Regions from separate parts of the Homo sapiens genome. Here all the other regions are linked to region 3. The links come from fine-mapping of genetic effects on gene expression. A gene starts in region 3. Each other region holds a variant in brackets. All regions are shown on one strand. Distances are between the middles of the regions.

Region 1 (8,174 bases), 87 kb after region 3:
GCCCTAGGGTGGAGCACCAGTTGGAGCTGGCAGCTCAGGGCCCTGGCTGGGAATGAGGCTGTGCTCCTAGAGTGGCCCTTGGAGGAATTTGAGGGGGAGCCTCAAATGCAGGCAGTGAGTCCCACAGGGTGGCAGTGCTGGCCGAGGGTCCCCTGCCTGGGGAAGAACAGGAAGCCCTTCTGACTAGGTTTGTGCCCCCTCCACCCACCCCTCAGGTCCGAGGCTGTCCGGAGGCCACAGCCTTCACGAAACATCCACGGTTCTGGTGGAGACTGTGACCAAGTCCTCCTCAAGCCGGGGCTCCAGCTACAGCTCCATCCCCAAGTTCTCCTCAGATGCCAGCAAGGTGGTGACTCGGGGCCCTGGGCTGTCCCAGGCCTTCGTGGGCCAGAAGAACTCCTTCACCGTGGACTGCAGCAAAGCAGGCAGGTGGCGGGGGGAGGGCGTCTCCCGGGGTGTGAGCAAGAAGCCGTCAGGGAGCAGGGTGTGGGTCACAGTAGGGGACTCCCTGGTGTGAGCCTGTCCCTCTGCCTCCCTCTCCAGGCACCAACATGATGATGGTGGGCGTGCACGGCCCCAAGACCCCCTGTGAGGAGGTGTACGTGAAGCACATGGGGAACCGGGTGTACAATGTCACCTACACTGTCAAGGAGAAAGGGGACTACATCCTCATTGTCAAGTGGGGTGACGAAAGTGTCCCTGGAAGCCCCTTCAAAGTCAAGGTCCCTTGAATCCCAAAAGTGCCTCCCCAGCCTCAGCCCCCACCTCCAGCCACACACACATTACACACACACACACACACACACAAATGTGCCACACCCAGACACGCACAGAATCAGACACTACAAACACCTGCCTTGGGGGTGAAGTGAAGGCCCAGCCTCCCCACCCCACCGCGCCCCAGGGGTTGGAGGACCTTGTCTGTGTCAGGACAGTGTCCCTCCCTGGGAATGTGACATGAGGGCCGACTGGGGCCAGGCTCAGGGGCAGAGGCTGGGACACAAGGGGCTGGCGAGGGCTGCGAGGCCAGGGAAGCCCTGAGTTTCTGGCGGGGCTGAGCAGTGGGGGAGCATTGTGTTGTGGGTGTCTGTGTGTGAGGTCACCCTCAAACTGCACCGCCGGCCAGATACCCTCCTGACCCCGAGGACTTGGTCTGGTCTCTCTGGTGGCTACAACCCCAGAGTTTTAAGGACTTGGAAAGGAAAGCACAATCAGAGAAGAAAACAGCCCCCGAACCAGCAGGAGTGGCCTGGCACATGGACCGGCCTGAGCGATGTGCACTCCACCCAAGCCAGGCTCCCAGGGGGCCTGATTTCTCTCTCACTGTCTCTTTTTTTAAAATGGTTGCACGGCTCTGCCCCATGGGGGGCCTTTTTTACACACTGCGAGGCCCAGCTTTCTAGGGGACTTTTGCACATGTCATGCAGCTCAGCTGGGAGCTGCTTAGGTGGAAAACTCCAAATAAAGTGCGGCTGTCGCAGAGGGTTGGCTGTTCCTTGGGGGTGTGCTCTGTGTGGCTGGCTGCCCTCTGGCCTGCCACACGAAAAACCGGGCCCTGGGGAGGCAGAGGCGGCCTGGCTGTTCCCTGGAAGATTGACCCAGTCGAGGGAAAGGTCCTGGGGCAGAAGTGAGGTCTGGGATGTTGGCAGAGTGCTTGAAAGAACCGGGGGTGGGGGCTCGGGGATGTGGGAAGGGGTCCCAGCGGGAGGGTTCGTGGACAGTACAGGGTGTGGATACTGTGTTCTACAGTACTGTCCCAGGACCCCTGGGAGGCCAGTTTCAGTTCAGCTTGACCTCAAGGATGTTTTTCAAATTAAGACTTTAAAACAGTGAGCACTGACTCAAACAGGAATATTCCTCAACCAGCAGGCAGGCAGAACCACCTGCAGACTCAGCACCTTCCCCCTAGTCAGTTCCTGAATCAACTTGGCCTGTTTCATGCCCCTTTCCAGCACTAAGCTTGCACAGGGCCTCCCTCCTGAACTCCTGCAACAGCCCTGCCCTGGCCAGCTCCCTCCAACCTCCCCTCCATGCTGCAGCTTGGCGGGGGGGTCACTTTAAAGATAGTATATGCCCCTCTCTGGTTTAGGGCCATCTGTGACTCCCTCCTGCTCCAGAGTAAAGTCTCCTCTTCCTGACAAGGTCTCCAGGGCCACCCAGGTTCAGACAGCAGCCTCCCCAGCCATATGAGTTGGGCAGCAGGCCCACTCTCCATTGTGCCCTCCACCTCCAACCCCCCTTCATTACCTCTGGGCACCCATGCTGTAATTTGGGCCCTTGCCCGGAAACACCTTTGCCTCCCCACCCTCTTCATCTTCCTGGCCAACAGGAAGTTTTCCTGGACCCCTCCCTACCCCTCCTGGATCAGTGCCCCCAGCTCCCAAACTGCCCTGGGACACATCTCTAGTTGCAGTTACGACCCTGAGCTGTGGCCATGTATCCACGGCTCCCCACCAGATGGAGCTCCCTGGCCCTGGGTGTGAATGAGTGAGTGAATGGGTATGAATGAATAAATGAGCAGCTGAGTAGCTGCAGCAGGGAAAAGAAGTCTTTCATTCAACTGATCCCACAATCTAGACCCACCTGGGCATTTCAGCACATGGTGGTGGGCTTGGCAGAAAAACCCACGAGTCCCCAACTCCTAATCCCTGACCTCCCCACCTCTCTCACCAGGCTCTGTGCTTCCTCCCTCTTCCCTCACACCCTCCCACACACCCATCCTCACTCTCTGCCCCCCTCACCCTCACCCTCACCCCTAGATGTGCTAATTTCCCCCTCAGCTTCGGCTGCCTCCACCTGTGTGTGGCTGATAAGCTCACAGACCTCCAGCCTGCCTGCTTCCAGCCAGCCACAGTGTGGCCCTGGGTGCTGAGCCTTACAGGCCCTTCCTCATTAATCCTCATAACAGCCCTATGAGGTGGGGCTACTACCATCTGAAGAAACCAAGGCCCTGGGAATTTCAGTGATGAGTCTGAAACCGTACCTTTAAGTAGTGGGGCACAGATTGAAACCCAGGTGTGCCCGAATCCCAAGCTTATCACACATACAATCGCTAGACCAGACCACGGGCACGTCTCAAGCACTCCAAACTCACAAACCCCATGCCAGACACCGGGAGTGCTGATTTGTTAAAAGGGAGGAGGAAAGAGTGGCTCCTTCCCCTTCAGCCTGCTCATCTTACAGAGGTCACTTTCTTGGCAATGTTACTCCCATCCATGTGCTGCACAGGCCAGAAACCTGGAAATCACCCAGGTCTCTCTCTCTACCTCACTCCCCAAACACATCCACTCTGAAACCAGTTTTGTCCTAAATATCTAAATATCTCTCGGCTCTACCTACTTCTCTGCGTTTCCCATTATCACCACCTGAGTCCTGGCCACCATTATCTCTCACAGTGGCCTCCCAATTTGGTTTCTCCTCCCTCAGTTTCGCCTCTGCACACAGCACAGTCAACAGTGAGTGACAGCTCTAAAACGTAAGTTTGGCGATAGCACTCTCTTACTTGAAATCCCTCAGCAGCTTCAGGATAACTGTCCTCAGGATAACTTCCAGATCTTTTTTTTTTTTTTTTTTTTTTTTTAGACAGAGTCTCACTCTGTCACCTAGGCTGGAGTGCAGTGGCGCCATCTCAGCTCACTGCAACCTCCCTTGCCCGGGTTCAAGCAATTGTCCTGCCTCAGCCTCCCGAGTAGCTGGGACTACAGGCACACACCACCTCACTGGGCTAATTTTTTTTGTATTTTTAGTGGAGATGGGATTTCACCATGTTGGCCAGACTGGTCTCAAACTCCTGACTTCAGGTGATCTACCCGCCTCAGCCTCCCAAAGTGCTGGGATTACAGGCGTGAGCCACCGCGCCCAGCCTGCAGATCCTTTTTTTTTTTTTTTAGACAGGGTCTCGCTCTGCTG[C/G]TCAGGTTTAAGTGCAGTGCCGTGATCATAGCTCACTGTAACCTTGAACTCCTGAGTAAGCCCTGCTGCCTCAGCTTCTCGAGTACCTGGAACTATAAGTGTGCACCACCACGCCTGGCTAATTTTTTTTTTTTTTTTTTTTTTTTTTTTTTGAGACAGAGTCTCGCTCTGTCACCCAGGCTGGAGTGCAATGGCACAATCTCGGCTCACTGCAACCTCCGCTTCCCGGGTTGAAGCAATTCTCCTGCCTCAGCCTCTCGAGTAGCTGGGACTACAGGCGCCCACAACCACGCCCGGCTAATTTTTTGTGTTTTTAGTAGAGACGGGTTTTCGCCATGTTGGCCAGGCTGGTCTCAAACTCCTGACCTCAGGTGATCCACCTGCCTCAGCCTCCCAAAGTGCTGGGATTACAGGTGTGGCGTGAGCCACCATGCCTGGCCTTACCAATTATTTAACTTTCCTTGAAGGCCCTACGCTCTCTAGTCAGTACGCCTTTGCACATGCTGTTCCTCTGCCTAGAACACCGTCTTGTCCTCACTTCTATCCCCTTCATCCTGCAGGTCCTTCAGGTCTCAGCTTAGATCTGAAGCAAGCTTCTTGGGGAAGGGTTCTTTGGACGCCCCCTCTCTCCATGGGTTAGTTACCATGGATGTGTGCTTCCATATACTTTTCACATTCTAACCATTAACACACAGCTTTGTAGTCGCCTGTTCCCTTGACTTTCCACCTCACTAGGCAGTATCATCATTAACTTTTGCATTCCTTTAACTGAACAAACGTGTGTTACTTGTTAACTATGTGTCATAGTTACACACATACATACACGATAAAGACCCAGACCCTGCCCTTGAGATGAGTAACTGCGTCTCTTCTCTGGGGTCTCGGCGTCTAACAGCGTCAGGTCCAAAGCGCTTGTTGAACGAATGAACCAAGGAACGAGTGAATGAACGAATGAATGCCCGCGAAGGACGTGGTGCCGCGCGGTCTTCTGGGAATCGTAGTCCCCTGGTTCGGGCCTGTCTTTACGGCGCAGGCGTATTCACATGGAGGCCGTGTTGCTGTTAATGCGCATGTCCCGGAATGCGGCTGGGAGGACTGCGCATGCTCGAAGGGTGGGGGTTGAGGCCGACGGGGCGCCGTACGGCGGAGGCGGGGTTTCAGTGGCTTCTGGTGCTCTAGGGTGAGCTCTGCCCGGCTGCAGGGATGGCGGGGAGGGGTAAGCTCATCGCAGTGATCGGAGACGAGGACACGGTGACTGGTTTCCTGCTGGGCGGCATAGGGGAGCTTAACAAGAACCGCCATCCCAATTTCCTGGTGGTGGAGAAGGATACAACCATCAATGAGATCGAAGACACTTTCCGGTACGGTACCGCGCGAGGCCTGAACGGGCCCTTCTGCTGCTCGGTGGAGTGCGGGGCGAGGCTGGAGGCTGCCCGGACGGGGGTGAGGGGACGATCCTGAAAGTCCTTCCGCCCTTCCGGAGCGGAGGCCTCCGCGCCCCAAGTCCCCGTTTGGGGCTCGGTGGGACAGAAGCTGTATCAGGTCCACGAGCCCCCCCACCTCACATGATCGTGTGTCATGAAAGAAGGGGAACAGAGCTCGTGACAGCCTAGACAGTGGGCTTGGACTTTGTTCTGCTTTCTCCTCCTTTAGAGGCTCACCATCGTCCCGTAAGGCAGGGATGATTTTTGTCCTACTCACAGGTGAGAAAACTAAAGCTCGGAGAGGGTAAGGCACACACTAAAGTTACGAGTCGGCAGAGGCAGAGCTAGAATTTGAACCCAATCTCAACCCTTTCTGCCTCCGGTAAGCCAGGTACACACTCTTGGCAGGTCTCCTCAGGCGGCCTCGGAATTTCCTTGTAGTCTTGAGCACAGTAGGCAGAAATGTCGGGACTGTGAGAGCCTTCTGCTAAGACCTTGCACTCAAGCCCTCACTGCCTGCCTTAGGTCAGAGTGTGGGTGCAGGCATGCTTTTAATCCACCAGGGGTCCTGGTGACTGGAATTAAGGATACCAGCCTCCTATTTTATTCCTCACCCCTTCTCCAGGGCCCCTGTACCAAGTCTCAGGAATAAACCACTCACCTGTTTCCCCCAAACAGTCCAGCCCAGGGCTGCTGGCTGAGACTGGTTCCTGCTGCCTGGTGTATTAGGTAGTCCCTGACCTGGGAGGCTGTTATCTGCCATTCTCTAAGCTGTCTGGTAAAGTGACCCAAGTTATCATGGGAGAAGGACAAATTTTACTTCAAGAATTTTTTATGTTTCCAACCAAAAGGGACCTCAGAGATCAAATCTAACCCAGTGACTGGCAGGGGGTGGGTGCTCAGTAAGTAATTTTTAATCAGTAAATAAACGAATGAGTCTGGGTGCAGTGGCTCACGCCTGTAATCCCAACAGTTTTGGAGGCCGAGGCGGGTGGATCACCTGAGCTCGGGAGTTTGAGACTAGCCTGACCAATATGGTGAAACCCCATTTCTACTAAAAATACAAAAATTAGCCAGGCGTGGTGGCGGGTGCCTGTAATCCCAAGAAATCAGGAGGCTGAGGAAGGAGAATTGTTTGAACCTGGGAGGTGGAGACTGCAGTGAGCCGAGATCCACCACTGCACTCCAGCCTGGGTGACAGAGGGAGACCCTGTCTCAAAAAAATAAAAATAAAATAAACAAATGAATGGGTGGGTGACCACAGGAGAGAAGGAGCACAAGGCCAGGTTCTTTTTGTGCAGAAAGTGTGATTCCTTCATCAAGGTGTCCTCTTCCTAGCTTGTGATCTTAGTTCATGCCAAACTTTCCCTCTGACCCCTCCACCACCCTCATCAGGATAGACCTTGAGGCCTTCAGTGGTCTCATCAGCCCTATTTTTAAATAATTTGTTTTCTTTTTAAAAGTTAATGTGTCTTTTTTTTTTTTTTTTTCTGAGACAGGGTCTCACTCCTGTCACCCAGGCTGGATTGCAGTGGCGTGATCGCAGCTCACTGCGGCCTCGACTTCCCAGGCTCAAGTGATTCTCCCACCTCAGCTTCCTAAATAGCTAGGACTACAGCTTCCCAAGTAGCTGGCACATGCCGCCACATCCAGCCATTTTTTTTTTGTGTGTATATATATAGATAGATAGATAGATCCGCCACATCCAGCCATTTTTTTGTGTGTGTATATATAGATAGAGAGAGAGAGAGAGAGAGAGGGAGATGGGGGTCTCACTATGTGGCCCATTCTGGTCTCAAACTCCTGGGTTCAAGCAATCCACCTGCCTCGGCCTCCCAAAGTGCTGGGATTACAGGCGTGAGCCATCACAGCTGGCCTTCAGTATCTGCACATAAAAAGGGATCTGCATACATATAATCTTATCCTTCCCCTTTCTGACACATCACTGCATATTGAATACACCAGTGTGCACCCTAATCAATCTTCATTACCAGTTCACTTGGAAGCCTTCCGGGCAGTGTTGTAGAAGCCAACCCTAATCAGCGTGACCCTCCGCTTTGGGATGAAATTGATTCTAGGTAGGGTTGACAGAGGGTTGAGCGTGGCAGCCTTTCCCCTTGTCCTCTGTGCCCTCTGGGTCATGCTCATTCCCCTCCACAGCCCAGCCCAACAACTCGGAGAGGGCTGCCTGGGTAGGAGAGACGGCAGCCCCCAGAGCTGTCCTGGACTCCCTTCTCATCTCTCCCCACAGGCAATTTCTAAACCGGGATGACATTGGCATCATCCTCATCAACCAGTACATCGCAGAGATGGTGCGGCATGCCCTGGACGCCCACCAGCAGTCCATCCCCGCTGTCCTGGAGATCCCCTCCAAGGAGCACCCATATGACGCCGCCAAGGACTCCATCCTGCGCAGGGCCAGGGGCATGTTCACTGCCGAAGACCTGCGCTAGGGGACTCCTCATAGCCCTCAGCCCTTCCCTCGTTTCCAGGCCTCTCCCCAGGCTTGCCATCAGCCTTCTTTACTTTTTGAGCCTCTGATTTCCAATTCCCTGCTCCTTCCCACTCCATTAAGAGGCTAGGTGAGGCGCTTCTAGGTTGCTGGGGCTCTGCTGGTTAAGGAACAGGAAGCCTGACCATCTCCCTCCACTACCTCTTCCCTGTGCTGTTACACAGTGTCATTGTTGATGTTAAATTAAAGTCATATTCTTGCTTCTCTCCAGATGGGTTGGGTGCTGGAAAGGACATGTGTGGGGTGAGGCCATGGGGCAGATTCGGTTGGCAAGGATGGAAAAGGTGCTGCCAAAGACAGGCATAGAAGAGGTGGCCCAGGAGGATTGT
Region 2 (8,174 bases), 55 kb after region 3:
AGCTCCCTGCAGCCTAGCCCTGTCTGGTTTCCCTTCCCAGGCCAAGAGGTAGAGCAGCCACCCGCTGCCACTCCTGTCAAGGACCAGCTGCTTTTGGGGCAGGGTGGGTGGTTCTAAAGATGACAGGTACTGCCGGTTCTGATTGTGGCAGAGGGAATGTTGGGTTGCAGGGAAGGGGAGAGGGGAACAGCCTGGAGATCCAGGCAGTGGTCCCCACGGAGGTGTGGACACAGAGCTGCAGGGGAAGGCCTCTCTCACCAGAACCCCTTAGTCTCCAAGATAATCAGAGGAAGCAAACTAATTGTTTTGGATCACCTATTAGATGCCAGGCACCATGCTAATCATCTTTCTTGTGATTTCCTTCCATTTTCACACATTAAAAAAAAAAAAAGACGAGAAAACAGGCCCAAAAGAGCTACATTACTTGCCCAAGGTTGCAGAGCTAGAAGTAGAGAGGCTGGAATTCAGCCCATGGATCATTCCACTCTACCACACTGTCCCTGGAACCTGGGTCAGAGCCACAGTCAGTATCAGTATCACTGAAAGTGCCTGTTATGACCTGGCCAGCCCAGTATCATCACAGGTGACTGTGGAAATGTCCCTGGTTCCAGAAAAACAGGATTTTCAAACATGGCTCATTGTATCCGCTCACTTGGATTCAGCTCAGCCCAAGATAAATATGGCCAGTATTGGTGGCTGATGAGCAGAGCCCCTTGACGGCAGAGGCAGGACCAGGTGAAGAGCCAGGCAACCTGGTCTCCTGAGATAGGTCAGCAGGTGGTGAGTCAGGGGGCTATAAACAGCCTGTGGCCCCAGCCAGCACTGCCCAGATACTCAGCTGATGAAACCCCTTGTAACCCCCTGTGTGCCCCTGCCTGGCTTGGGGAGGAGCATGTCAGCGCTCCTCGGGGAGGGGGCCCTACTTGGCAGGCCGGGCCCAGCATTGTGCACGGTCTGTTCCAGCCTGGCTGGCCAGGCCCAGGGCCTGGGCTCATGGGCTATATTGAGGGCTGAGTCACCAGCCCGCGCCTGGGTCAGGCTGAGTGTCACTGGCTGCTGGGGCCTGAGTCAGGCCCCGATTTATCCTGGAGAGCAACAGGCTCAGGTTTCTGAGGACGGTTGCGGGGGGTGACGGGAATCATCCTTTGGCACTCTGTACCCTCCTCTCCTCTGCCAACCATTCACTTGATCCCCTGGGACCCGCACACTGACCTCCCCTGGAGCGAGCTCTTGAGTCAGAGGGAAAGCAAGGGAAGCTACGCTGGGAGTTCCTTCTCCCCTCCCTGGCTTCCTCCGGCCTCTCCACCTGAACAGAGGCGCTCAGCTGGCTGGGGGACCTCAGATAATGCCTGCAAAACAGGACTGTGGACCATTAGGGTCTGTAAAGGGGCTGTCAGCTCCGAGCTACCTCACCTTAACCCTTTCTCCTCCCCAGCAGCTCAAAGAGGAATGCATCCTTTCTCAGATCTGTGTCTCAGTTTACTCACCAGGGATTCAGAGGCAGCACTGCTGAACCCTGAGCCCTTGGCACATCAGGTTGGCTGTCAGAAGTCGGCCTTTGTACATACACAGTTCCCTTGTGAGGCCCAGCTGCGTGTCCTAGGAGCGGGGCCTCTCTCCACAGCAGAGCTCAGCCTCTCAAGTGTATGGACAGCACGGGTGCCTGATGGGTGGATTTAGCCATGAGTTGAAGGTGGCTTGGGGAGAATGAGAGTTCTAGAGATAGGGAGAAGGGGTTGCCAATAGGAGAGTGGAATTCCTGAGCACCTCGTCACAGGCAGCCGACAGAACATGAGCCGCAGGGCCCAGGCTATTTATACCTCGCCTGTCACTATCAGGGTCCCCACAGCTCCCCCCACCTCCAGCCACACACAGCAGGTCCTTTTGCTCTTTCTGGTCCCTTCTCTACTCCTCCCCCTCCCTACCTAAGGACCAGGCAATTTCATTCATAGACCCCTGTCATCATAAGCATTGCCCCCACAGAACCCTGACACTTTTTCCTCAGCTCCGTAACAGGGGGTGCCCTCATTGGCCCTTGGGGGAAAGAGCCCCCAAAGATGCTCACTATCCCTTCTTTTACACCAGGTCTAGGGGTAGAAGAGGAATTAGATATAATGATTCATCTAAAAGGGCCCAGAACCTTCCCTGGCTTAAAGAAACTTCTCAGGCTCAGATATGGCCTCCTAGCCAGCTCAGCTAGACTTACTAGGTCTAGAAGGATGGGAAAGCTGAAGACACATGGCTTGAAAAAGGGGGAACTGGGAGATATGGCTGCACGTATGTTACAAAGTTGCAGAATGGATCCTCTCCTTATAGAAATACATTCTCTAGGCCCAGCACGGTGGCTCACGCCTGTAATCCCAGCACTTTGGGAGGCTGAGGCGTGCAGATCACCTGAGGTCGGGAGTTCGAGACCAGCCTGACCAACATGGAGAAACCCCGTTTCTACTAAAAATACAAAATTAGCTGGGCGTGGTGGTGCATGCCTGTAATCCCAGCTATTTGGGAGGCTAAGGCAGGAGAATTGCTTGAACCTGGGAGACAGAGGTTGCGGTGAGCAGAGATCATGCCATTGCACTCCAGCCTGGGTAACAAGAGCAAAACTCCATCTCAAAAAAAAAAAAAAAAAAAAAAGAAAAAAGAAAAAGAAATACGTTCTCTAGCTCTTTCTCCTCACCCCAGGCCAGAGTCTGTTTGGGTGCCTCGGTTTCCCTGCTGTTCTATTCCCCAGGCCTGCAGCCTTTGGCTTGCCCTGAGTGCAGCTTTGCCTGGGCATCCCAGCTGGCTCCCTTAGGCTCTCCCTGACCACTCTGCCCCTGGTCCTGCCTACCCACCTGGTCACATTTCCCCCTGGCTGCTCTGGCTGGGGCTCTCCCTGTTTCTGCCTGGCTGACCCACCCTTTCCCTGGCAGGATCTGCCCTGTGGCCCAAATGGGCATGTTGCCCAGGGGGCTCCCTGGCACTATGGGGGAAGAGTCTCTCCTTCCCCTCTTATCATCTCAGTTGAGTCAGACTTGGGGGAGGGGGATACACAGTGTGAGTCACTGGGTACCCTTTTCCTGAGCTCAGCTTCATACCGAGGCGATGAGGCCAAACGGGCTGGTGACAGGGACACTGAGTCAGGGGCAGGGGCCCCGGTCTTACTCCTGGGCCTCTGGATTTGGGCCCTACATGAGGCTTTTCTATCTGTAAAGTCAAGCAATGGCTGGGAGGCACACACAACCCCCCGCCCCCCCGCAGGCTTCTCCTTCATTGGCCCGGGCAAGGTCCCTGCTTCCTCTCAGGCCGTCTCTGCACAAGCACACACACTTCCCTTCCCTGTCCACAGGTGGACAATGCCCTGGGCTAGGAGCCAGCCCTCGCAGGCCCTGTCAACAGCCTGCCACCAACTAGTCTAGAAAATTCTGTGAACACCAGATCAGTGGGTTTTGCCCTAATCACTGGCCTCAGTTTCCCCATTTACCTCTTCAGCCCGTGCGGGGTGTGGAGGGAGCATATTTCATTCCTGACAGTTTGGTGTGTTGGGTGTGGATGGAGAACTGTCGGCCCTCCCCGCCACCTTCCAGCGCGGCGGCACCGGGGGCCCAGGGGGTGGGCGCCCTCAACCCCGTCCCGCCGCCCGGGCGGCGCGGGGGAGGGGCGGCGGGGGCGGGGCGTCCTGTGCGGCGCGGCCCCCACCCGCGGGCCGGGCGGCATTCCTGGGAGGCCGGCGCTCTGACGTGGACCCGGGGGCCGCGGGCGCGGCGGGGGGGCGGCGGTCCGGGGGCTTCTTAAACCCCCCGCCCCGGCCCAGCCCGCCCTTCCCGAGCACCGCTCCGGCCCTGGAGGG[A/G]GAGAGAGCCAGAGAGCGGCCGAGCGCCTAGGAGGCCCGCCGAGCCTCGCCGAGCCCCGCCAGCCCCGGCGCGAGAGAAGTTGGAGAGGAGAGCAGCGCAGCGCAGCGAGTCCCGTGGTCGCGCCCCAACAGCGCCCGACAGCCCCCGATAGCCCAAACCGCGGCCCTAGCCCCGGCCGCACCCCCAGCCCGCGCCAGCATGATGAACAACAGCGGCTACTCAGACGCCGGCCTCGGCCTGGGCGATGAGACAGACGAGATGCCGTCCACGGAGAAGGACCTGGCGGAGGACGCGCCGTGGAAGAAGATCCAGCAGAACACATTCACGCGCTGGTGCAATGAGCACCTCAAGTGCGTGGGCAAGCGCCTGACCGACCTGCAGCGCGACCTCAGCGACGGGCTCCGGCTCATCGCGCTGCTCGAGGTGCTCAGCCAGAAGCGCATGTACCGCAAGTTCCATCCGCGCCCCAACTTCCGCCAAATGAAGCTGGAGAACGTGTCCGTGGCCCTCGAGTTCCTCGAGCGCGAGCACATCAAGCTCGTGTCCATAGGTCAGTGCCGGGGGCGAGGGCACGGGCGCTGCGGGGATAGGGTCGTCCCATGGGGCAGGGGCACAGGTGCGGGGTGGGCGCGCGGGGAGCTGAGAGACAGGGCGGAGGGCACCCCCCGGTATAGAGAGAAGACCCTGGCCCCGGCCCTCCCACCCATCGACAAGGGCCATGGGCACTGCCTGCACACCCCTCTGGGGACAGCGAGCACTCCCTGGGTGCCCCGGGGAGTCCAGGCCTTAGGGTTTGCGAGCCCTCCAGCTGCCGCCTCCCCATGCACATTCCCACCTCCCGCCTCGGCTCACCGTTCCCTTTCCTTCCATCGGGCAACCCTAGCCCACACTCGGGAGGACAGAACCAGTGCCTGTCACTGATTCCTGGGGGCATCTCCCCGCCCCCAACAAAACAAGTGGCTTCCCAGCTTCACAGCCCCTCCGCGGGCTGGGAGAGGGCTGAAGACAGGTCCCCAACCACTGCCCGCGTCTGCGGGCTCTGGGGCCGAGGGGAGCTGGCGCGGGAGGCCCTCTTCGTGCATGTGCTCAGCAGCTGGGTTCAGGCCCGGGGGCCAGGACAGGCAGGGCCCAGCCTCAGAAACCTAAAAAGGCACTGAGCGAGCGCGGGGAGACTTAACCCCTGTCTGTCCTCCTCCTGCTTCAGCCTGCGGTGGAGGGGGCTTCCGCAAGTCCAGGCCCTGCCCCAGCCCACCCCCTACCGCGGGATTGGCTGCAGCTAACGGTCTGGGCTGCGGGGAGGGAGGGAAAGGCCTGTGGAAGGGAGGAAGTCTTTGAGTGTAACCAGATTTGGAAGGTGTGTAGTGCAGGGTGGGGGCGGGGAGGCACTCTAGTCTTGGGAGCAGAGACGCCAAGGGTGGGCTTGGAGTGGCAGGAGGCTGTCCTGCCCTCAGAGTCCTGCAGTCATCCCTGAGGCTGGGGGCCTGGGGAAGATCCCCCCGCCCACCCCTGTGGAGAGCTCTTAAGAACCCTGCTGGGATTTGCAGGACGAGGTCCTTGGACGGTGCACCCCACGGCCCCAGGAGGGGAGTTTCATGTGGGGCCAGGTGGGCCCCACACAGGATGTTCCCTGAGATTTCTCCAGATGACTTGATGTCTGTCAGCCCCACTCTCCCTTGGGGCCATCTCTAGGCCTCCTGATATAGCAGCTGAGGTCAGCCCAGGGCCCTTTGCCCCGTCCAGTCCCCTCCCTAGCCCTTACCCCCTCCTGCCCCAATACTGCCCCCCCACCCCACCCGCCTGCCCTGTCCTGGAAATAGCCCTGCCTCCGTGACACAGCAGATGTCTCTGAGCTTTCCAGAAGGACAAGGCTGAGGGCAGGGGGTGGGGGAGGGAGCCTGGAGTGTGTAGTGAGACTGAGGGCTACGTGATGGAGGCTGAGGGGTCAGAGAGGAGTCAGTCCTGGGCCGGCATCCTCAGCAGGCTGGGTTTTGAAAGGCAGGACTGACTGTACCAGGTGGGGTCTGGGGGAAGAGCCGGAGGCTTCGGCAAGACATATAGGAAACCGCTCAGCCTTCCCCTCCCCTCCAGTCTGCGGGGGCTCTCGGCCCCTCTCCAGGCCTCGTCCTTCCTGAGCACACCTCTCCCCTCCCCCGTGGCGGTGCCTGGCTCCAGCCCCCTTGGCTCAGCAGAGGAGGGGCTGGCTCAGAGCAGAGGGGAAGAAGCAAAAGCTGGTTTGAGGGTGGGAGGGAAGCTCCCTGGTTCCCGCTGGGAGGAAGGGGAGGCAGTCCCCATTTGGGCCAAGTGGCTCACTGGCGCTGATGAGATAAGCTGTCAGCAATTCAGCTGCCGGCCCCAGGCTGAGGCTGGAGGGGAGGGGACACCGGCAGCGACCAGCTGGGGCGCCCCACCATGAGGAGGTTCAAAGGGGCTGCCCACGAGGCAGGGGCATCCTGCTTCTGCTAGCTCCCCTACTCCATTTAGTGGTGGAAAGGGGCTATCCATGGGGCCACCTTCTGAGTATTGTCTCAGCACCGAAATCGAGCATCTGGGCACCTCAGGGGGTGTCAGAAAGACTCCCCACTTCTCTTTCCAGGAGGGAAGTCAGGGTCTGGAGTAGCAGCTGGGATCCAAGCCCACCTGAAGAAGGGGCACTGAGCCCAGGTTAAAGGAGCTGTGCCCTTCATATCCTCACCACCTTGTCCTGGCCCCCCGTTGCCCCTCGTTCCCTCCGAACAAAGAGGCCTATGAGGCAGCTCTGTCTCGCAGCTGTTCCCCAGTTGCTATTCCTTCTCCTGGAGCCAACAACCAAGGGAGGGGCGGGAGGGGGCAGCAGCTGTCCCAGCACCTCCCTAGGCCCAGCCCTCTCCTCCCCCTCCATTTGAGGCCTGGGGTGGCCTCGGGAACTAGCTGTCTGGCTCCTCCCACTCCTTTGGGGGTATCCCTAGGCAGATGGAGAAGTGGCTTGGTGAGCCCTGGTGGCGCTGAGCTCCTCTCCTCTGCCTGGCCTCCGAGAGGGAGGAGGGAGAGGGAGGTCATTGCTTCCAGAGTGGGACTTGGGGCCCCACTGCCCTTCTCCTGCCCCAAGCCTGGACCACTTGCTGTCTGGCCCAGGGCCAGTTGCTGGGGAGAAACTTCCCTCTCCAGCAAATATGAATGACCACCCTCCCCATATACACACCGCCCCCCCCAACCCCTGCAGCCTCAAGGCTTCCTGCCCAGGGGTCTGGCTCCAGTTTGCAAGAAGTACTTCTGGGCGTGTGAGCTTTGGAGGCTGTCGGGGTTGTGAGAGGCTGGGGGCACTGGGGCATCCAGACTGTGTGAAAGTGTTGGAGCCTGTGTGTTTGAGAGAAAGCACCGGGAGGCAGGGAGTGAGTGTGTCATGGAATCTGAAAGCTGCCAAACCATTGTGCTGCAGTGGAGCCAGGGGAAGGGGGTGGGCTGGGGAGCTGCTGGGGAAGGAAGGATGAATCAGTGACAGGGTGGGGGAGCCCAGGCGGCCAGAGCCCCAGCCAGAGGGACAGGGAGACTGAGGCACCCCTCCCGGGGCAGGTGGGAGTGGGGCAGGGGATGCCCTGGATTTCCCAGGCTCTCGGTCTCCTAACACTTTCCCCAAGACCTGGGGAAGGGTGGAGGGGAGAAGATGTGTAAGGGGAAGGCTCCACTCCACCCTCTCCCATCTCTCGGGCAACATCAGTAAACAAGACTGTCTTCCACCCCCTTCCAGCCTCCTGAAAGCAGTGCTTTGGGAAGCTGATAGATTTCAGAACTTCATTGCCCTTTACAAGTAAGCTGAATTCCAAAGATCTATCTACATGCTAGGCCACCCCAGGCTTCTGGATATTTCTTTCTGATTGTTAAGGGGGATCTAGGCGCCCCCCCCCCCCAAATCTTGAGGAACCAGTTCTGGCTCAAAGGATTCCTCAAAGGAGGTGATGGGTGGAGTGTGTCAGCTCCTGAGGCTGGAGTCCCTCTGGCCCCCAGCCTTTGACAACATGACTTTCAAGACTTAACTGAGAATGTACTGGACCCCACCCACCCACCCCTGCCCCACTATCAGAACCCCTTGGTTTCTAAAGCCCTTTCTGGCATTCGGGGTAGAGTGTGAGTGGAAACTTGTCCTACCCCACTCCAATTTCAGTTCTTAAAATATTCATTCAACCAATATTTATTGAGACCTTACTATGTTTAAGACCTTCATTGTAGAAAGATAAAACCTAGTGTCTAGAGTGAAAAAAACCAGACCAAAAAAAAAGAGAGTATATACTGTGTGATTCCATTTATATAACACTCTAGGAAATACAAAGTAATCTATCGTGACAGAGAGCAGATCAGTTGTTGCTTGGG
Region 3 (8,163 bases):
CTGCAAAGACAGCAGCAAGCATTATACGGTCATCTTGAATGATCCCTTTGAAATTTTTTTTTTGTTTGTTTGTTTAAATCAAGCCTGAGGCTGGTGAACAGTAGCTACACACCCATATTGTGTGTTCTGTGAATGCTAGCTCTCTTGAATTTGGATATTGGTTATTTTTTATAGAGTGTAAACCAAGTTTTATATTCTGCAATGCGAACAGGTACCTATCTGTTTCTAAATAAAACTGTTTACATTCATTATGGGGTATGTATGACCTTCATTTTCCAAGAAATAGAACTCTAGCTTAGAATTATGGATGCTCTAAAATGTCAGAATGGGAACTCTCCTCGAAGTTCTCCCAAACTCAGAGACAGCACTGCCTTCTCCTAAATGATTATTCTTTTCTCCCTGTTTTCTGGTATTTTCTAGCATCCTTCTCACCACAGCCATAACCCTTTTTTACTTCCATTAGGCCGTATAACTGGAGAGACCTGCTGCTCGTTATATAATTATCTGATACCAAACACAAGCGATTCTGAATGTACACACACGTTTATCTATAGAGCATAAGGTAAAACAATTTTGTTTAACATTTTGGTATTGTTTACAAATGTTATTAAAACATGCAAATTCATTTTGAGAACCTCGAGAGAATTAAACTATTAACTTTAGTAAACACACAGTTTAAGACAAATATAAAGGTTTAGCCAAATGCAACGGGGAGGAAGCACCTGGAATAATTTGTGCTTGCTCAGGGGCTTGTGGACATGGCTGTTCCTGCCAAAGCTGTAGCAGTTATCCAAAAGTTCTTTCAAACTCATATTTGGGGCCACTGAGTTTTTTTTGTTTTTTTTTTTGTTTTGTTTTGTTTTTTCTTTATGTCTCTCCCATTTCTAAAGTGTTTTCTTAAGTTTGTTCTAATTCAGCATATATCATCTCAGAATGGATCCCCAGCAGGAAAAAAAAAAAAAGTTACTAAAAAGGAAAGTATCCATACACTGAAAACTTAAAGCATATTCCTTTTTGGTTGCCTTGTATGTAGAAATCAGTTCTCCAAGTGCTGTGAATGGTGCCACTTAGGAGTAGAAACTGATGATTGTTGAAATGGCCTTTGGGTGGTCTGAAATAGACCAGTGGAAACAGTAGCTTTGTAGGCAAGAAGGCAATAGTAAGAAAATGAAAAATTGACTCCCCAAACTGCCATCACTCCTTTTACCATCTTTTTTGTGTTTTTAGTAGTTTGGTTTCTGACGGAGACAATAGAAACTTACTTAAAAGTAAAATTTAATTCTAGCTGTTGCAAACAGGCCAATATTGGGTCCTCAGTTGGGGCCAACTTGGGTAGACGAGACAGTAGAAACTTCTGTTTTCTGGGAGCTGCATGTGTCGGATTCATCTGTCATGGCCTTCCCACACACCATCTTCATGATGCAAGCTTGGAACTGGAGAGAAAGGTACAATTGGAGATAACCTTGGCAGATGAGGAAGTATGGGAAAAAAGACCTTATTCTCTGTATCACCAAAGCCTTGCACAATGCTTTGTACCCAGAATGCCCTTAGGTGGTTTTGAATCTATCTTCCCCATCCTGAAAACTATCTAGATTCCAGTCTAGAACTACTCCTGGGTCTACGGTAATCCTAAACTGGTCAAGTCTGAGACCTCACTGTTGGTAAATTCACAAACCATCCTGCTTCATAAAAGCACTGTCAGCAGAGGCCCCTCCATTACTAGCAGGTGCTCCCAGCTGGAAAGGACTGCCAATTCTCTTCTATCCAGGGAGGTTTCAAATTAGTTTTGAGTCTACCTCTGGGATTGAGGAAACAATACCATCTGAAAGTAGGGTTTTTGCCACTTAGGGTTTGGTGTTTATTAGCTCGGATTTCAGATGGGATAGGAAATCCCCCAGTACCTTCAGATGATAAGATATTTTAGAGATTTTTGCATGTGGTATGATTTCTGTGCTTCACACATGCTCGTGCAGGCTAAAAGTTGGAAGGGAAATGATTAAGAAATTATTAAATGCAAGGACTGAAAATTGAGAGGAATCTGAGTTTTTATTTTTATTTTTTTAATTTTATTTAAGTTCCAGGATACATGTGCAGGATGTGCAGGTTTGTTACATAGGTAAACGTGTGCCATGGTGGTTTGCTGCACGAGTTTTTCAATAAAATGCTTTCATTCATCCTGTTCTTTGGAGCAACTTCATTTTCCTGACTCAAGTTCTTTCCTCCGGGGTTCTATTTTCTCGTCTTGATAACCGTGCCTTCCTCCCTGTGCTTACCAAAGGCTTCCCAACCTACTCGGGGGTTTTGTGGCTTCCCTCGTCTACTAGAAACCTGGGTAGAGTCCAGGGTGCTCTGAGTTAAAAGTCAATGGTGAGAAAAGAACCAGGGTCTTCTGGACCATAGGAATGTGAATAAAGAGCTTTACCTGCTTATTCATGAAGCAGTAGATGATGGGATTGTAGATGCAAGCACTCTTGGAGAAGAATGAAGGAATGGTGACAAGCCGTAAGTCCAGCCCATGGTTACGGTTGTTGACCATGTACATGGCGAAGGCCGCGTAGGGCACGTAGCAGACACAGAAGGATCCTACCATCACAACCACCATGCGGCTCACCTCCCGTTCAGCCTTCTGGGTCGTAGCTGACTCCTGCTGCTGAGCTGCAACCTGGGGTGGAGCACGGAAAGCATCACATCTCTCTTTTTCCTGGCCCTCTGGATGCTTTTTTTTTTTTTTTTTAATTTTTAATTTTTAATTTTCTTTTTGAGACCGAGTCTCGCTCTGTTGCCCAGGCTGGAGTTGCAGTGGTGCAGTCTCGGCTCACTGAACCTCCACCTCCCGGGTTCAAGTGATTCTTTTGTCTCAGCCTCCTGAGTAGCTGGGGTTACAAGCACACACCACCATGCCCAGCTAATTTTCGCATTTTAGCATTTTGCCATGTAGGCCAGGCTGGTCTGGAACTATTGACCTCAGGTGATCCGTCTGCTTCGGCCTCCCAAAGTGCTGGGATTATAGGCGTGAGCCACTGCGCCCGGTCTCTGGATGCTTTTCTGTGGGATGGGGGAGGGGGCATCCACTCTGATTGCCTCTTTTCTGTCCCATCTCCTGGCCTAGTTCCTTTGGATCTCCATCATTCTCCCTCCTCCTACTTCCTTTGCTGCTTTTAGATACCCTCTCTGGCTATGGACATTTCCAGGCATCTTATGTTTCAGAGCACTCTTCCTTCTCATGTGGAGCCCCGAACCCCTTCTTCCCTGACTATCAAATGCCACTCACAGCTTTCAGGGCCCTCAGCAGCTGAGTGTAGGAGAAGCAGATGAGGGAGAGAGGCACAATGAAGCAGAAGATGAAGAGGAACCACGTATAGGACTCGCTGCGGTATTTGGTGCCCACGGTGTACCAGTCAGGGCCACAGGAACACTGCAGGCCCTCAGGGATGAACCTGCAAAGGACCAAACACTTGCTCACTGGACTCTCCACAAGAGTGCAGTGGGAGCTGAGATGCCTGGATTGTGTTCTCCACTTAGAACCCACGGAATGCCCTAAGGCTTCAAGCAGGGGGGTTTTCTGTCCTGACTGGGAGAAGCTACAGCAATTCCAACTGCAGAGTAAACGTTAGCACTTGTCTCCCACTGCCCTTTCGCCTCATATTGCAACTCTTTAAAAGTAGAGGTCAAAGACTAAATAGTTATACCCAAGCTCTCTTTCCACCCACATCAACCTGAGCTCCTAGTTAACTCAGCACCACTGCCCTGCACTCTCACCGGCTCCAGCCAAAGAAGGGTGGGATGGAGACGCCAATACCAATGGTCCAGGTAGCCAGGACCACCGTCAGTGCATGCTTGGAGCTGAAGCGGAAGTTGCCGAAGGGCTTACAGATGACAATGTAGCGCTCAAAGGCCAGGAAGGCCAGTGACCATCCTGTAACCAGACCTGTGGTGAAATGTGAGGATAATGGGCTAGACAGAGCCCCACCCAGCCTGGCTGGCAGAGTGGCAAACAGATCGGGTGGAGCAAGCACAGAGAGACAGGGCTGGACTGACATTTGGAGTGAAGACTCAAACATCCTATTTTAGCCAAACTTCTAGTCTGGGTTGCTTTGTACCCCAGTATTTTAAAAAGCACCAGACTCATTTCCCCCAGACTCCTCTTTAGGAACCCCCTCCAGTGGAGTAGCAACCTTTGCCTTCCCCTAACCCCTTTTTCCCCTGCAGTACCTGCTACAGTGCCCAGGAAGCCCTCCAAAGCACAAACATGGCGACCGAAGACGAAGTATCCGTTACAGCTGGCGACGAAGACAGGGAAGACAGAGAAGATGCAGAGGAGGAAGCCTCCGAAGGACACGTTGACCAGAATGTAGTTGAGGGGCTGCCGCAACTTTTTGTAGCGCAGTGTGGCCACCAGCACCATGGCATTGAGTGGGAACCCTATAAGGAAGACAGTGCCCATGAAAGCTGCCTGGAGGTAGAAGGCCCAGACAGGGGCAATGTGGTACTGAGGCCCATCCCACGGCCCCACTGAAGAGATATTTTTGAACAGATAAAACTCTTCCTCCGACATTTTTCTCATGGATGCCCCACACCCCCCTCTGAGTCCTCTTATAGGTGATCCTCCCACCCCACAAAACCCCTCCTCTAAAAACACTTGGGCTCTGTGAATGATCAATACTAATCCTAAACCTCCCAAGGACAAAGTTTGGGATTAGAAATCCCTAAACCACTACCTAAACCTTTTGTGGCCCCAAAGCCGATTGTGTTCTTCAGAGGATAAGAGATTGGGCTCAAATAATCTGGATATGCAATGCTGGGTGCTGGGATGAACAGAAGTGGACTCCCTGAGGTCTGGGAGGTGCTGACCCATATTCACTGAAGATGCTTCCACTTTTTTGTTCTTTTAATGGGGCTATAGAAAGGGCACGCCTCTTATTTTGGCTTCTGGCACAACTGTATCAGTTAAGTTTTCCTCAACTCATCTGCCCCTTTGTGGAAGGTGCCCATCTTAAGTCTGCTGAGAGGCTAGGAACCAGCCCTGGGCTGCAGGAAAGGGCTGGGAGTGGGGAGTGCCCTGGAAGCACATCAGTAAACAGCCTTGATGGAACAGGACTTAGGCAACTTGACAATGCCTAGAGGTCTAGGGCATCCCTGAGCCAGGCTGCCTCCATTTCTTTGTGTTGAATCTACTCAAAGAGTGTGCCTTTCCTACTCAGACCTCCAGCCAGGGAGGTGGGTCTGTTCACTGTCCTTACGCCATGTTCATGCCTACCCCTACCCTTAGCTCAACAAGTCGCCACAGTCTTCCTCCTGTCTGTTCATTGAAGTCTTATCTAGCCCTCACAGCCTACCTCACAAACACCTCTTCTGTGCAGCCCACCCCAGTGACACCAACTCTGCTTTAAGTTCCACCTGCACTTGTACTCAGTACTACACTTTAGGCTTTATGAATGAATCTTTTCCACCTCAGCAGATCATAAATATATAGATGAGTTGGCCGGGCGTGGTGGCTCAAGCCTGTAATCCCAGCACTTTGGGAGGCTGAGATGGGTGGATCACAAGGTCAGGAGATCGAGACCATCCTGGCTAACGGTGAAACCCCGTCTCTACTAAAAATACAAAAAATTAGCTGGGTGTGGTGGTGGGCGCCTGTAGTCCCAGCTACTTGGGAGGCTGAGGCAGGAGAATGGCGTGAACCCGGGAGGCGGAGCCTGCAGTGAGCCGAGATCACGCCACTGCACTCCAGCCTGTGGGACAGAGCGAGACTATATATATAGATGAGTTAAAAGTGACACACTTTAGGTATAAGTAAGTTTAAAAGTGAAAGGATGGTCCAGTAATGGCAGAATAGTTTATTAGATGAATGCCCCCTTAGGCAAAAAAATTGTAAACTGGACACAATATGAAAAACAACTTTTTGAAAACACCTAAAGTATCCAAAGCAGGCAGAAACTGAAAGGAACTCAACTCTTCAATGAAAAGAACCATCTACATTGTTGTTTTTTTTTTTCCCTGAGTGTACTCCCGAGTATAAATGGCACAGGATAGCTAGAACTTGAGCAGAAAGCCCCAGCCTTTTTTGGCTTGAAGAGTCAGAGGACAGAGGACAGGAGACAGAGGACAGTTTGGGACTCCAGAACAGCTGAAGGTGGATTTCCTGGAATGAAAGAAGCCACAGAAGGCAAAGTCTTTAAATCTGCATATAAACTCCCCTCAAATCATAGGCTGACTGCTGAACTGTGGATGGAGGAATTTCCAAGAGCCCAGTAAAAGACAACCACTGGAGGTCTGAAAGAGCTAAGCAGATTTTGACTGTTACCCACTGTAGCAGAGAAAGAGTTTGAATTTGAATCCCAAGTCAGAGGGTCTGGGTAAACACTTAGGGCTTTCTACTTGAAACTCCCAAAAGGCCACACCATAGAGCTAAAATCTATATCCCAGGACTAAATATTTGTTCTGAGAGTAAGGTCAAAGCCAAAGCTGACTCATACTAGCAAAAGATAAAACCAAGCCTCAGCGGGTTCAAGGTGATCAACTAGTAAGTTAATTGCTTATTAGAACAAAAATCAACACCCCTCAATGGAAGATAACCCAGTTTCTAAAGTTCACTATCTACAATGTCTAATATACAATGAAAAATTAAAAGGCGTGTGAAAGAAAAAAAAAACCCACAGGAAAATATGAGTCATAGCCAAAAGAAAAAGCAAGCAATAGAAACAGAACCTGAGATGACCCAAGAAGTTGGCACCAGCAGGAAAAACTTCAAACAGCGATATAAATATATTCAAGAACTGGAAGGAAAAAAATGATCATCGTGAGTTAATGGATCTCAGCAGAAGAATGGGAAAAATAAAATAGCCAAATGGAAATTCCAGAACTGAAAACTACAACATGTCAAATGAAGAATTTACTAGATGGCTGAACAGCAGATTGGACAGCAGAAGAAAGGATCAGTGAACTTACAGATAGATCAATAACAAAAAGATATCTGGAAAATCCCCCAAACACTTATGAATAAGCAATATACATCTAAATATCCTGTGAGTCAAAAGAGAAATCATAAGGAAAAACTGAAAGAATTTCAGCTGAATAACAACAAAAAAGTATTAGAAATTGAAGGAGTCAGCTAAAGCAGTACTTAGAGAAAAATTTATAGCTTTAAGTATTTATACTAGACAATAAATGTTTAAAATTTAAACTTTCACCTTGAGAAGCTGAAAGGGTGAATCAAATCTAAAATAAATAGGGGCAGATACTAAAAAGCAGAGCAGAAAACATTGAAATTAAAAATGAATAAAGAATGGAGAAAAATCAATGAAACCTGAAGCAAAACAAAATAGTTCTCTCCTGTCTCCAGCATCTCCTCAGTAGGATCTGAGCCAATCTCAGGTCACTGCAACCTCCATCTCCTGGGTTCAAGTGATTCTCTTGCCTCAGTCTCCCATGTAGCTGGGATTACAGGTCTGTGCCACCATGCCCAGCTAATTTTTGCATTTTTAGTAGAGACAGGGTTTCACCATTTTGGCCAGGCTGTTCTCAAACTCCTGACCTCAGGTGATCTGACCACCTCGGCCTCCCGAAGTGCTGGGATTACAGGCATGAGCCACTGTGCCCAGCTGACTTAATTATTTCCGAAAGACCGCCACTCTCATGTGCATGCGCACACATGCACATCCCACACAAACACTCGGCCGCAGGTGGGAGTCCTGGTGGAGGTTACTGGGGAGAGCCAGCTAAGGGTCCAGTCAGATTGCCTGAGTCATGGGGGGAACAGGGTGGGAGGGCACTGTCTGGGAAGGTGTGAGGACAGTATTAGGAGGGGCCAAAGATGTGGCCACCTAGCCTTGTACAGATGAGCAGAGCTGCTCATCCGTTGCCCTGGGCAGGACTTCAGGACCAGGGCCAGAGGTCACCTTAAGGTGCCTATCCCTGAGCAGGGCACATGGACTGTGTGTGAGCCTGGCCTGCGTGGAACAAGCCAGCCTCCACTGTCCGCTGGGCTCTGCTGAGGTGCCCACCTCTGCAAACATTTCTGATGGGAGGCTAAATGGCGAGGGTGCAAGACACCCCGGGCCCTTTTACATCCAGTGTACAAGGCTAGGTGGCCACATCTTTGGCCCCTCCTAATACTGTCCTCACGCCTTCCCAGACAGTGCCCTCCCACCCTGTTCCCCCAAC

Direction of the effects. Alleles are on the strand shown, and positions count from the first base shown. SD is a standard deviation of normalised expression in the study named.
For the expression in prefrontal cortex of the gene that starts at base 4,568 in region 3, G is the high allele of the variant in region 1 and C is the other (large effect, 1.4 SD a copy in CommonMind).
With allele A in place of G in region 2, the expression in skeletal muscle of the gene that starts at base 4,568 in region 3 is lower (large effect, 2.0 SD a copy in FUSION).

The links. PIP is the estimated chance that this variant, and not a neighbour inherited with it, causes the effect.
Region 1: its variant is fine-mapped to the expression of OPN1SW in prefrontal cortex (CommonMind, PIP 0.95).
Region 2: its variant is fine-mapped to the expression of OPN1SW in skeletal muscle (FUSION, PIP 0.95). The same link has a PIP of 0.9 or more in subcutaneous fat.

The regions. Positions count from the first base shown.
Region 1 is chr7:128,857,793-128,865,966 of GRCh38, forward strand. It overlaps FLNC (filamin C), which reads left to right. Exons shown (of 48, transcript NM_001458.5): 47 at 216-425; 48 at 544-1,480. The coding sequence ends at 731. ATP6V1F (ATPase H+ transporting V1 subunit F) reads left to right here and starts at 5,064. Exons shown (of 2, transcript NM_004231.4): 1 at 5,064-5,270; 2 at 7,585-8,055. The coding sequence starts at 5,113. The coding sequence ends at 7,786. It overlaps FLNC-AS1 (FLNC antisense RNA 1), which reads right to left and starts at 4,834. Exons shown (of 4, transcript NR_149055.1): 1 at 4,733-4,834. RefSeq lists enhancers at 401-901, 4,678-4,787, 4,868-5,357. The variant C/G (reference allele first, on the strand shown) is at 3,910.
Region 2 is chr7:128,826,610-128,834,783 of GRCh38, forward strand. FLNC (filamin C) reads left to right here and starts at 3,797. Exons shown (of 48, transcript NM_001458.5): 1 at 3,797-4,380. The coding sequence starts at 4,029. RefSeq lists a silencer at 3,853-4,014 and an enhancer at 6,863-7,506. The variant A/G (reference allele first, on the strand shown) is at 3,830.
Region 3 is chr7:128,771,227-128,779,389 of GRCh38, forward strand. OPN1SW (opsin 1, short wave sensitive) reads right to left here and starts at 4,568. Exons shown (of 5, transcript NM_001385125.1): 1 at 4,213-4,568; 2 at 3,760-3,928; 3 at 3,272-3,437; 4 at 2,423-2,662; 5 at 1,259-1,433. The coding sequence starts at 4,555. The coding sequence ends at 1,314. CALU (calumenin) reads left to right here. Exons shown (of 7, transcript NM_001219.5): 7 at 1-2,174. RefSeq lists cis regulatory regions at 4,554-5,121, 4,562-5,556, 4,565-8,163, 4,565-8,163, 4,565-5,664 and 1 more.